3 linked regions of the Homo sapiens genome follow. The protein of the gene in region 3 purifies or fractionates together with the protein of the main gene of each other region. This does not show direct contact. Each region holds a gene or a part of one and is shown on either strand. Other genes may lie near its edges.

What was found.
Region 1: the proteins of ARL13A (region 3) and INTS12 purify together in Homo sapiens (affinity purification with mass spectrometry; 2 studies listed by BioGRID and IntAct, with this or other methods). This does not show direct contact.
Region 2: the proteins of ARL13A (region 3) and NDUFAF7 purify together in Homo sapiens (affinity purification with mass spectrometry; 2 studies listed by BioGRID and IntAct, with this or other methods). This does not show direct contact.

What each region holds. Positions count from the first base shown.
Region 1 is NC_000004.12:105,691,608-105,695,263, reverse strand, and holds part of INTS12 (integrator complex subunit 12), read left to right. Parts: intron 1-1,777; coding exon 1,778-1,965; intron 1,966-3,128; coding exon 3,129-3,288; intron 3,289-3,656. UniProt on the Homo sapiens protein: Component of the integrator complex, a multiprotein complex that terminates RNA polymerase II (Pol II) transcription in the promoter-proximal region of genes.
Region 2 is NC_000002.12:37,241,658-37,245,313, forward strand, and holds part of NDUFAF7 (protein arginine methyltransferase NDUFAF7, mitochondrial), read left to right. Parts: coding exon 1-134; exon of another isoform or gene 135-767; intron 768-977; coding exon 978-1,036; intron 1,037-2,205; coding exon 2,206-2,316; intron 2,317-3,656. UniProt on the Homo sapiens protein: Arginine methyltransferase involved in the assembly or stability of mitochondrial NADH:ubiquinone oxidoreductase complex (complex I).
Region 3 is NC_000023.11:100,983,052-100,986,707, reverse strand, and holds part of ARL13A (ADP-ribosylation factor-like protein 13A), read right to left. Parts: intron 1,042-3,656; coding exon 792-1,041; intron 1-791.

The sequences.
Region 1 (3,656 bases), on a different chromosome or scaffold from region 3:
TGAGTGTAAACTTTAATCTATGCCTCAGAGATCCTAGATGGAACAGTTGTTAAGAAGAAAAGATAGATACACTTTGGGAGGCCGAGGCAGGTAGACTGCTTGAGCTCAGGAGTTCAAGATCAGCCTGGGCAACATGATGAAACCCCATCTCTACAAAAAATACAAAAATCATCTGGGTGTGGTGGCATGCACCTGTAGTCCCAGCTGTTTGTGGGCGGGTGGGGGGTGGGAGGATTGCTTGAGCCCAGGAGGCAGAGATTGCAGTGAGCGGTGATCGTGCCACTGCACTCCAGCCTGGGTGACAGAGTGAGGCGCTGTCTCAAAAAAAAAGGAAAGCAAGAAAGAAAAGATGGGAAAGAGTATAGATGTAAATGACTAAACATAAACTTTATAGAGTGGTATGCACCTGAACAGTGCCAAAGATGATTCTTGGATTGTCTATTTTTAGATGATTTCTACATATAGTAATTAAGATTTTAGTAGTTAGAAAAAAATACATTTGAAAGATATCTTCAGTAACCCTTGCCCTCAAGATGGAGTATATTATCCCGTATGTTTTCATACTTTTGCTAAATAGTGGCTATTCATAAACTACATTAGATTATTTCTCTGTTTTTAGATCTACATAAGTGAAGCTGGGTGTGGTGGCTCATGCCTGTAATCCCAGCACTTTGGGAGGTCAAGGCAGGAGGATCACTTGAGGTCAGCAGGTCGGGAGTTGGCCACCCTGGCCAACATGGCAAAACCCCCTCTCTACTAAAAATACAAAAATTAGCCAGGTGTGGTGGCGCACACCTGTAGTTCCAGCACCTCAGGAGGCTGAGACGTGAGAATCACTCTAACCCAGCAGGCGGAGGTTACAGTGAGCAGAGATTGTGCCACTGCACTCCAGCCTGGGCAACACTGCAAGACTCTGTCTTAAAAAAAAAATTATGTAAATGTTATCATACTGTGTGTGTGTATATCCTTTGGTAACTTTTTCTCCACTCAACTATGTGCTTTTGAAATGTATCTTTGTTAATGCATGTAGATCTAGATTTCTTTTAGCTACTACATAATACCAGTTTATCATTCCCCTACTGATTTATCATAGGGGAATGATTAACCAGTTTATCATTCCCCTACTGATGCACAATTAGATATTTCTCCTTTGTTTCTATTACAATGGAGTTTGAGTGAGCTACTTTATACATATGTCATGTTAATAGTTTCTATAGGATGTATACCTATAAGTGAATATAATAGGATATGACATCTTCAACATTACTAGGCATTGCCAAATTTCTATCAAAAGTAGATGTACTAAATTTACACTGTCATCAACAAAGTATAAGAATTCCAAATTCCATGTCTTATCAGACTTTTTGATTTTTGCCAAATCTAATGGGTATATTGATAATATTTATATCTTAAAGAAGGGAATCCGAATTTGCTTTGAAGCAAATATGTGTTAAGTCTGTATGGTAGATACTAGTCTAAGTAAATCCATCGATCTTCCATAATTCTTTAGTAGATAGAAGAGTACAAAGAGAAATACAAATATTTGTTAAACTGTTCTGATTTATTTATTTCTATCTTGCTGGTTTCATTTAATATACTAATAAATTCATTGCAATTCTTCTACAGATCTTTAATGTGCACATCTGTCCCTAACTATGTGAATATATCTGTAAAATGGACTTGTTCATTGCCAATTGTCCTTCTCACTCGTCTTTCAGTGACTTAAAGTTTATTCTACCACATTACTTTATCATTTTCTGATGCCTGCTTTTTATAGATGAAATCAGACATCACTGAAGGAGTTGATATTCCAAAGAAACCTAGATTGGAGAAACCAGAAACACAGTCATCTCCCATTACTGTCCAAAGTAGCAAGGATTTACCTATGGCTGACCTTTCCAGTTTTGAGGAGACCAGTGCTGATGATTTTGCCATGGAGATGGGATTGGCCTGCGTTGTTTGTAGGTAAGTTGTACCTTGCCACAGATTCTTTTGTTACTTTATAAAGAACACATGACCCTTTCCACTCCTCAACCCCCAAAATCAGAAAAATTGTTGTGCATTTTCTATTTTGTTTTTACTATTTGGAACTGGGGTGGAGATAAGTAGGTAACTGCCCATATAACAATTTAGCATATTGAAAATTGTCAACTATTTTGTCTTTCCCAACTATGGCTTTTAAATCTGTTATGTTGTAACATTTTCTGCATTTTTGGGTTCCAGAGGGAAAGTGATTATTATATTATGATATATATGCCTTTGATAATCTAAGGCTATGGTGATTGCTTTTTGTGCTGTTGAAATTTATACTTTTTTATACACACATGGCTTCATTCTATTAATCTGATCAGACATTTATTGAGCACCCTATGTGTGCACAGTAATGTGCTAAGGACTGTGGATAATTAGGTCCAGTACTCACCTTTAGGTGACTCATATTAATGAAGAACAACAACAACATACAGCTAACTAATATAAGGGAATTTAATGGAGATACAAAATGTTATGAGGCTGTTGGAAGACTAATCAGAGTCTACTACCTTCTGAGAGAAAGGCAAAAATTATGACGAGAAATGACGAGAAAATAGCCAAATTTAATTAAGGCATTCTATATATTTATTAATGGTTGACCATAAGCTTTAAAAGCTTATGCTTTTGTGCATGCCAAGTGTTGGGGTTTGTTATTTGCTCTTTGGGTTTCTGGGATTTTTTTTCTTTTTAATATACCAAACTTTACCAGAACAACCTGGAAATAACTTTTTTTTTTTTTTTTTTTTTTTGAGACAGAGTCTTACTCTGTCACCAAGGCTGGAGTGCAGTGGCATGATCTTGGCTCACTGCAGCGTCCATCTCCTGGGTTCAAGCGATTCTCCTGCCTCAGCCTCCTGAGTAGTGGGGATTATAGGTGTGTACCACCATGCCCAGCTGATTTTTGTATTTTTAGTAGAGACAGGGTTTCACCGTGTCAGCCAGGCTGGTCTTGAACTCCTGACTTCAAATGATCCGCCTGCCTTGGCCTCCCAAAGTGCTGGGATTACAGGCATGAGCCAGCACACCTGGCCCCTGAAATAACTTTAAATTATGGCATTTAAAAAAGTAGTGTAATGTTTAATGGTATGTTTTCTTAGGCAAATGATGGTGGCATCTGGCAATCAATTAGTAGAATGTCAGGAGTGCCATAATCTCTACCACCGAGATTGTCATAAACCCCAGGTGACAGACAAGGAAGCGAATGACCCTCGCCTGGTGTGGTATTGTGCCCGATGTACCAGACAAATGAAAAGAATGGTAGGAATCATATTTTTCTTTATTTTAAACAGTCTGTCAATGTTTTTGTTGGTATGTGCTTTCAAAACAAAGATTTGAATATTTAAGATATTGAAAAAATAAATAATATAAGCTGATTATTTATTTATATGTATAGTATGTACATGTGATTAATATTTCTATTGCTAAAGACCAGACCATGTTATGTGCATTTTTCTCTTTTTAGTTTTATCTAATTCTAATATAGATAAAACAAGATTGGTGACACACAAATTATGAATATTCCTTACTAGTCTGTCAATGTATTGACAAACATTTTAAAATACCATGCAGCACTGAGAAGTGGTGAGATACAAAGCCCCACTCTTTGTTGAGATCTGGTAAGGAAA
Region 2 (3,656 bases), on a different chromosome or scaffold from region 3:
GATTCAAGCATTGACACTGACTAAAGAGAAGGTCCCGTTAGAGCGAAATGCTGGATCCCCAGTGTATATGAAAGGTGTCACTAAGTCTGGGATTCCAATTTCCTGGTACCGAGATCTGCACGATGTTCCAAAAGGTAATTACCTTTATGTGGATTAATGAAAGAATTTTGATCACAACCCTCACAGTATTGATGGGACTGTAACTTTTTACAGCAATATAATAGATTGAGTTACTGCTGCCAAGTCCCTTATCCATAGAGAGTAGCCTACTTTTTTCTAGAAAAGAGCATCTTAATAGAAAATAAAGTTGCCTGACATTAAGTAGTAGTTTATTTCATGAAGCTTTGTAAAATCCCAAACAAAATGTAAATCTCCTTTGTACTTTTGAGTATTTCCCTATAGCTAGGGTTGTACCGATGACGGAGCAGCCCAAGGCAGCTGGGGCTGATGGAAGCAGTGTTAGTAGGTGGGTTTAGTTCAGTTATAGAGTCTTTTAAAAAATCCTTACTTGCCTAAAGACAAGCAAGGTGTGGGGGAAAATCCCTGTACTAGTCAGGAATACTGACTAGTATTGACTAGTTTGAGTCTTGACTCAAAGCCAAAGTGGGGGTACGATCTTGGGTAAGGGATCTCAAGCCATTCCTGCCTCAGCCTTCTCAGGCTGAGAAGCCCGATTTTATGAAATCAAATTCCCTTCCAGCTAACAACTCTGACTTCTAATTTCTTTCAAGCCTTGTGATGAATAAAAGCTTTAACTGCTATTTCAGGTATTTCCATTTTCTGACCCCATTTATGTGTAAAATAAGAATAGTAATAATTGTTCTATGTTCTGCAGTGTAAGTTTTCCATGAAGAGGTAGATAATTCTGTGGTAGTGATGATTATGGAGGAAGTAGGCATTTTTTTTACAGTTAATATTCAAAAGAATTAATTCCTGTGAAATGTGGAAACATTAATTGTTTTCCTCTTTTTAAATAGGGTACAGCTTTTATCTTGCACATGAATTTTTTGATGTTCTTCCTGTGCATAAATTTCAGGTATTGAGGGGGGAAAAAAGTCATGTCTATAATTGAATACAAAAGGCATTGTGTTGCCAATGTTTATGGTATTTATTCAGTATACAAATTTTACTTGTTGAGGTTATTTTTAACTATTATTTGGAATTTTGGTACACAAATAATTCAAAAGCAAAAAATGAAATATTAATGAGAATTGTTAGTTCTCCTGGGATAATTATTAAGAATTCTTAATTCTTCTGATTTGAAGAAGTAAGGGAATGAAAAATGGTAAGATGGTAACTGGCTGTGGTGCAATGAAGGATTTACTTAAGCAAAAAAAAAATTTTCTTTTTTAAGAGATAGGGTATTGCTATGTTGCCCAGGCTGGTCTTGAACTCCAGGGCTCAAGTGTTCATCCTGCCTCAGCATCCCAAGGAGCTGGGACTACAGGTGTGCGCCACTGCACCCAGCCAACCTTAGCACATTTTAAAAAATTATAGATTAAACTTTTTTGGGCCAGGCATGGTGGCTTACACCTGTAATCTCAGCACTTTGGGAGGGCGAGGTGGGTGAATCACTTGAGGTCAGGAGTTCAAGACCAGCCTGGCCAACATGACAAAACCCTGTGTCTACTAAAAATAGAAAAATTATCTGGGCTTGGTGGCACGTGCCTGTACTTCCCAGCTACTAGGGAGGCTGAGGCATGAGAATCACTTGAACCCAGGAGGCAGAGGTTGCAGTGAGCTGAGATTGCACCACTGCACTCCAGCCTGGGCAACAAAGCGAGAGCTTGTCTCAAAAAAAAAATAATAAAACTTTTCTTCATTCTTTCTGTGAGGAGATTTAAGATTTGGTGATAATGTATATGTACTGGTAATTTGTGAGGAGAAGAGCAGCTCTCATGATCCTGTAGTAATTTGTTAGTAAAGCTTCTGGCTGTTCTTCCTGAGTCTATTTCCGTTTTTGGGGTACTTTCCATGCTGCTGATTTTATCTTCCACAGCGTCATCTCTGTTATTGTTTCTTTTGCATCGATTGGTCTACTCATTGTTCAAAGGCAATGAAGTAATGAATTTAAGTAATTTTAAATAGTAAGTTCTCTGTAAATGTTAGTTACTTATGGTAAGAGGAGAAAAAGCTATTTTTGGTAGAAGCAATGTAGAGAACAAACTTGCAAAAATTTGTTTTTATGTGTTATTTTGTGTTTAGAAAACACCACAGGGATGGCGAGAAGTATTTGTTGACATTGATCCACAGGTTTCTGATAAACTGAGGTTTGTTTTGGCACCTTCTGCCACCCCAGCAGAAGCCTTCATACAAGTAAGAATATGCTTTTTTAAGTTTCTTTTATTGCTCACAGAATCTTCAAAGTCTTATTTTCTGAGTTACTACTTTAGAGTTTTAGAGTTCCTTTACAGGAAGAGTTGCTAGTAGCATACGAGGTGCTTTTTATTGACAGTGAAAGTGCAGAGGAGCTAGAGGCAGGAGCATGGGTTAAAATCATTTCTTAAGTGTGTGACCTTAACGTCATGTAGTAAGAGAAAGTAAGTAACCGCTTACTCAGCCAAGTCTCTTACTTTCACTGCTTATCTCAGTTTCATGTCAAATGGTAATGGTATTGTCCACAGGAAGAGTTTACATCTGTGAAAGCAATGTAGTACAGACTATAGTAAATTAACAATAACAGCTAACGTTTGTTGAGTACTTTGTGTTACTCTGTTTTCTCATTTAATTCTCAAAGCAACTATATTAGGTAGGTTCTATTATTATCCTTCTTTGGGCTACAGCATGGCTTTTATCCCATGCTTCCACACAGATCTCAGTTTGATTCGGCCAGAATGGTAGAATTACTACTGCTTTCTGTTGATCTCAAGGAATCATTGCAAGAGCCTGTCTATTGTGGCTTGTTTAAAGGTACAAAAAAATCCCTGTACTTCTCAGGAACGTCCAGGCTTCAGACTGCCTCTTTTTTTTTAATCCTTTTTTTCCAGCTCAGAAGATGATTTTTACTTTCTGGACCTTAACTGAGAACTTCTTACTTAGAAATTATCAGTTTTAAAAGCACAAGAGCTTTTAAACTTAAATGTATGAATTAAGTTTTGTTAAGTATAAATTTAAATGTCAGACTGAACACTTATGAACACCTGTTTTTTCATAGTATAGCAATCTAAGTTTACCTGAATGACATATTCATAGAACTACCAAGAACTAACCTCCTGGCCCTGGGAGTTCATTTAGTTCTTGACCTAATTAGTATTCACTTAGGAAGGGAGGGAGCGAATATTCTCTTTCACTTGAATGAGATGCGTGGTAATACATGTCATCTTGAAGAGTAGCCTAAGATAGAATGTCAGCATGATCAGCGTGTCCACTGATGCCTGATGAGGCTGACTTCATGGTTTTTATAGTTAAGCCACAGTAATTTGATTGCACTATTAGCTAAATGGTTAGTTATATTTAATCCTCACAATAAACCTACAATATCTATAAGGAAGAAAACAACTCAGAAAGTTTAAGTAACTTGTCTACCAGTAAGCATAGGAAGAGCTGAGATTTAACTTCATCTGACTCTATGCCTGTTACCATAGGCAGACATCAGGGCAGGTCATTACTGCATTTCTATAATAAGGTGTTAGGAAGGAGTACAAGTTAATGTATGT
Region 3 (3,656 bases):
GAGAACAAATTCTACTATAACTGCTACATATCCAGGAATTAGGTTTAAAGACATACCTAATGAGATGAGCTAGACATTTTTCTAGTCAACTTCCAATGATGGAAAGTATAGCACAAATCATTTGAATCCAAGATAGTCCCCCCAGGGCTCATTTCTCACTTCCCCTACATTATGCTATCAAACTTTAATTAGAATTGCTAACTGGGCTATGAACATATTTGGAGTTTTTACATCCTTTCCCAAACTCTGTTCATGCTCTAGTTGGGGTTGCTAATGAGGAATGAAAGAAGCATAAAGGGAGATGGGGGCGGGGATGAGAATTGACTGGCCACCTGCATTATCACCCTGGAATAAGTGCTAGTTATGTAACTTTTGAGCAATCTGATCAGAGAGGAGGTCATTGGCATCAATTATACAAGATAGGAGTTCTCTGCTATCATGAGGTTTCAGGATCAGAGACCGAAACCAGAAAAGATGATAAGCAAATTCAGGAAGATAGTCTTCAGGAAGAGTCAAGGGGTGGAGGTGGTGGATACCACTTTTCATTTCCCTTTGATGCTTCCCTTCAAAATTACCTTTGTACAGTTAGGTAACTTGTCCCCCATGGCAGTGTGTGGTAGAAAGTAGCTCTTGAGAACAAACCTCAGAAAATTGGGCCGCTCTACCTCACTGAGCCTAAGGGAACAGGAGGCCTAGCTGGGTGTGACAAAGGGACCACCCCACCCTTCATTTCTATACTTTTAAGGGTACAAATTGGGAAGCAGAAATAGGACAGAAAGGCAGAATCTTACATTAAGATGGGTTTCCCTGCCACTCTTTTATCGGACAGCAGATGTGTTAAGATGATCTTCACTTCCTGCATGCGTCTTATGTCACTGGAATCCAGGACGAAAACAAGCCCATGGGCCTGTGCATAGTAGTTTGGCCATGCTTCCCGGCCCTTCAGGTCTCCATTCAGGTCATAGATGGAAAGTTCATACTCATCTAACAAAAGTGTAGTCAGTTCCGATTTCATGCAATGGTCTGTCTTACTGGGAAGTACTGTGCATAGGGGAAAAGAGGAGAAGCAATCACTTAGATCGAAACTCCATACTCATCTAACAGGAGTAGAGTCGGTTCCGATTTCATGCAGTTGTCTATCCTGCTGGGAAGTACTATGCAGAGGGGAAGAGAGGAAAAGCAATCACAAAGTAGGGAAATATAGTTAGATCAAATAATTTGTTGAACCCTGACTAGAGCCTGCTCTGAGAAATCCCACTGAAGCATCCTGCCACCCTGCCCATACTTGGGGGCTATCTTCCTAAATCATCGCTTTACCCATGCTATCCTCTCCTGGCTCAGTAACCTTTAGTGAGTGTCCACTGCTTCCAGAGATAATACAGACTCCTTCACCTCCTAACCTGCCAGACCTATCTCCTAGCGCTGTAACCTGACAAGTGTCCACACTGTCCCTAGTACATACCCAATCTGTTCTTCCCTTGGCTCCTTTGCCCTTACTTCTCCCACTCTACATCAATGTCTTGCTCTCTCTTGCCCTGGGATGTTACAAGATGCCATTCTCTCTGCCTAGAACACTTCTACTCTTTGCTTAGTTAATGCCTATTTTTTAAAATGTCAATTTTGATCTTGTTTATTCTGGAGTTTTCCCACACACCAGCCATCTGGATAAGGTACCTTTCTTCTGAGTTTACCATTGTCATAGCACATATTACAGTGTTGTAAATTCTATGGTTTATTTATCTGGGTTGTAAACTGCAACAGGACAGGAACCCTTTCAATTTTATTGAAATTTATTCACCATTACATTCATGATGCCAAGCACATTCATTATTGGATTAATCTGATAAATGAATGAATGAACAGGAGGTCCTTCTCTCCCACCCTTCAATACCCAGCTCAAGTACTGTTTAGGAAGACTTCTCTGGTCTGTCCACTTCTCACTTCTCTCTCTCTTTCTTGTTGAGCACATGGTCTGTTGAGCTGGTCCTTCACCTCTTTTTGTGCTTGCTTTGTCTCTCCAACTAAAACGTAAGCTATATGAGGGAGGATGTCTGTATTACCTTACACACAGTAGGTGTTCAATAAATGTTTATGGTGGTTGTTACTGTAGATGAGGGTATGAAGTTGTCTCCCACATATCTCTTCCAAGAAACCATGCTAGACTTAGACACATTTTCCTTTGAAAAGCTATAGCCAGAACACAAAATCTCATAGGGAATTCCATACCTCATTCAACTCCCATAGAAATGGAGTTGAAAACGGTAGTCTTGGCTGGGCACGGTGGCTCGCGCCTGTAATCCCAGCACTTTGGGAGGCTGAGGCGGGCAGATCACCTGAAGTTAGGAGTTCAAGACCAGCCTGGCCAACATGGCAAAACCCCATCTTTACTAAAAATACAAAAAAAGAAAAAAAAAAACAAAAAACAACTTAGCCGGGTGCGGTGGCACACGCCTGTAATCCCAGCTACCTGAGAGGCTGAGGCAGGAGAATCGCTTGAGCCCTGGAGACAGAGGTTGCAGTGAGCTGAGATTACGCCACTGCACTCCAGCATGGGGGACAAGAGTGAAACTCCATCTCAAAAAAAAAAAACAAAAAACAAAAAAAAAAGAAGGAAAATGGAAAACAGCAGCCTTTATATGCGTTCCAGTCTGTTGAACTGACCGTTCTAGCCTAGCTCTCTTCCCACATTAGTAGCAAAATGACTTTATACATTCTCTGCACCCATACCTGGGAGCACTAAGACTAGAATGCATAACTTCTTATTTGTAGTCTTAGATCTGCATGTGACATTTTCCATAGCATTGCTAAAATGAGTCATTAACGTGAAAAGTTAGTAATATACTTTTGGGTCTTTGGAAATGAGAGTACATATATATGTGTGTATATGTATATATTATTATTATGTTTAAATGTGATTTTCATAACATCTCTTCTGATTTCATGTTAGGCAATGAACTGTTAAATTATAGTTTTCAGATAAAATAATTTTCAGCCAAAACTTTGATGTGATATTTGCTATATCTGTATTAGACTACTCAAAAATAACAAGTGGGCCAGGGACGGTGGCTCACACCTGTAATTCCAGCACTTTGGGAGGCCGAGGCAGGCAGATCACCTGAGGTCAGGAGTTCGAGACCAGCCTGGCCAACATGGTGAAACCCTGTTTCCACTAAAAATACAAAAATTAGCCAGGCGTGGTGGCGGGCACCTGTAATCCTAGCTACTCGGGAGGCTGAAGCAGGAGAATCACTTGAACCCGGGAGGCAGAGGTTGCAGTGAGCTGAGGTCTCACCATTGCACTTCAGCCTGGGTGACAGAGCGAGACGTCTGTCTCAAAAAAAAAAGTGAATAGGTTAAAACTCTAAAGGTAATATTAGAGTTTCCTGCATCGAGAAAAGCTTTATATATTTTTTTTGCCCTGTCAGAGAAAAAAATTTTTTTCCTAGTTTTCTTTTTCTTTTTACTTGAAACCTTACCAGTTCCTTCAGTTAGTGCATTCTATTGTTGGTGAACCCTAGATGCTGTGAGCGGTTGTTCCCTGACAATTTACATTTATCTTATTTCCTCTATTAACGTATAAACACTCTAAGGACCGGTACTGAGTCTGATTTCATTTCTGTATCCCTAGTGGAGTGTTTCATAAAGCATGGTCCGGG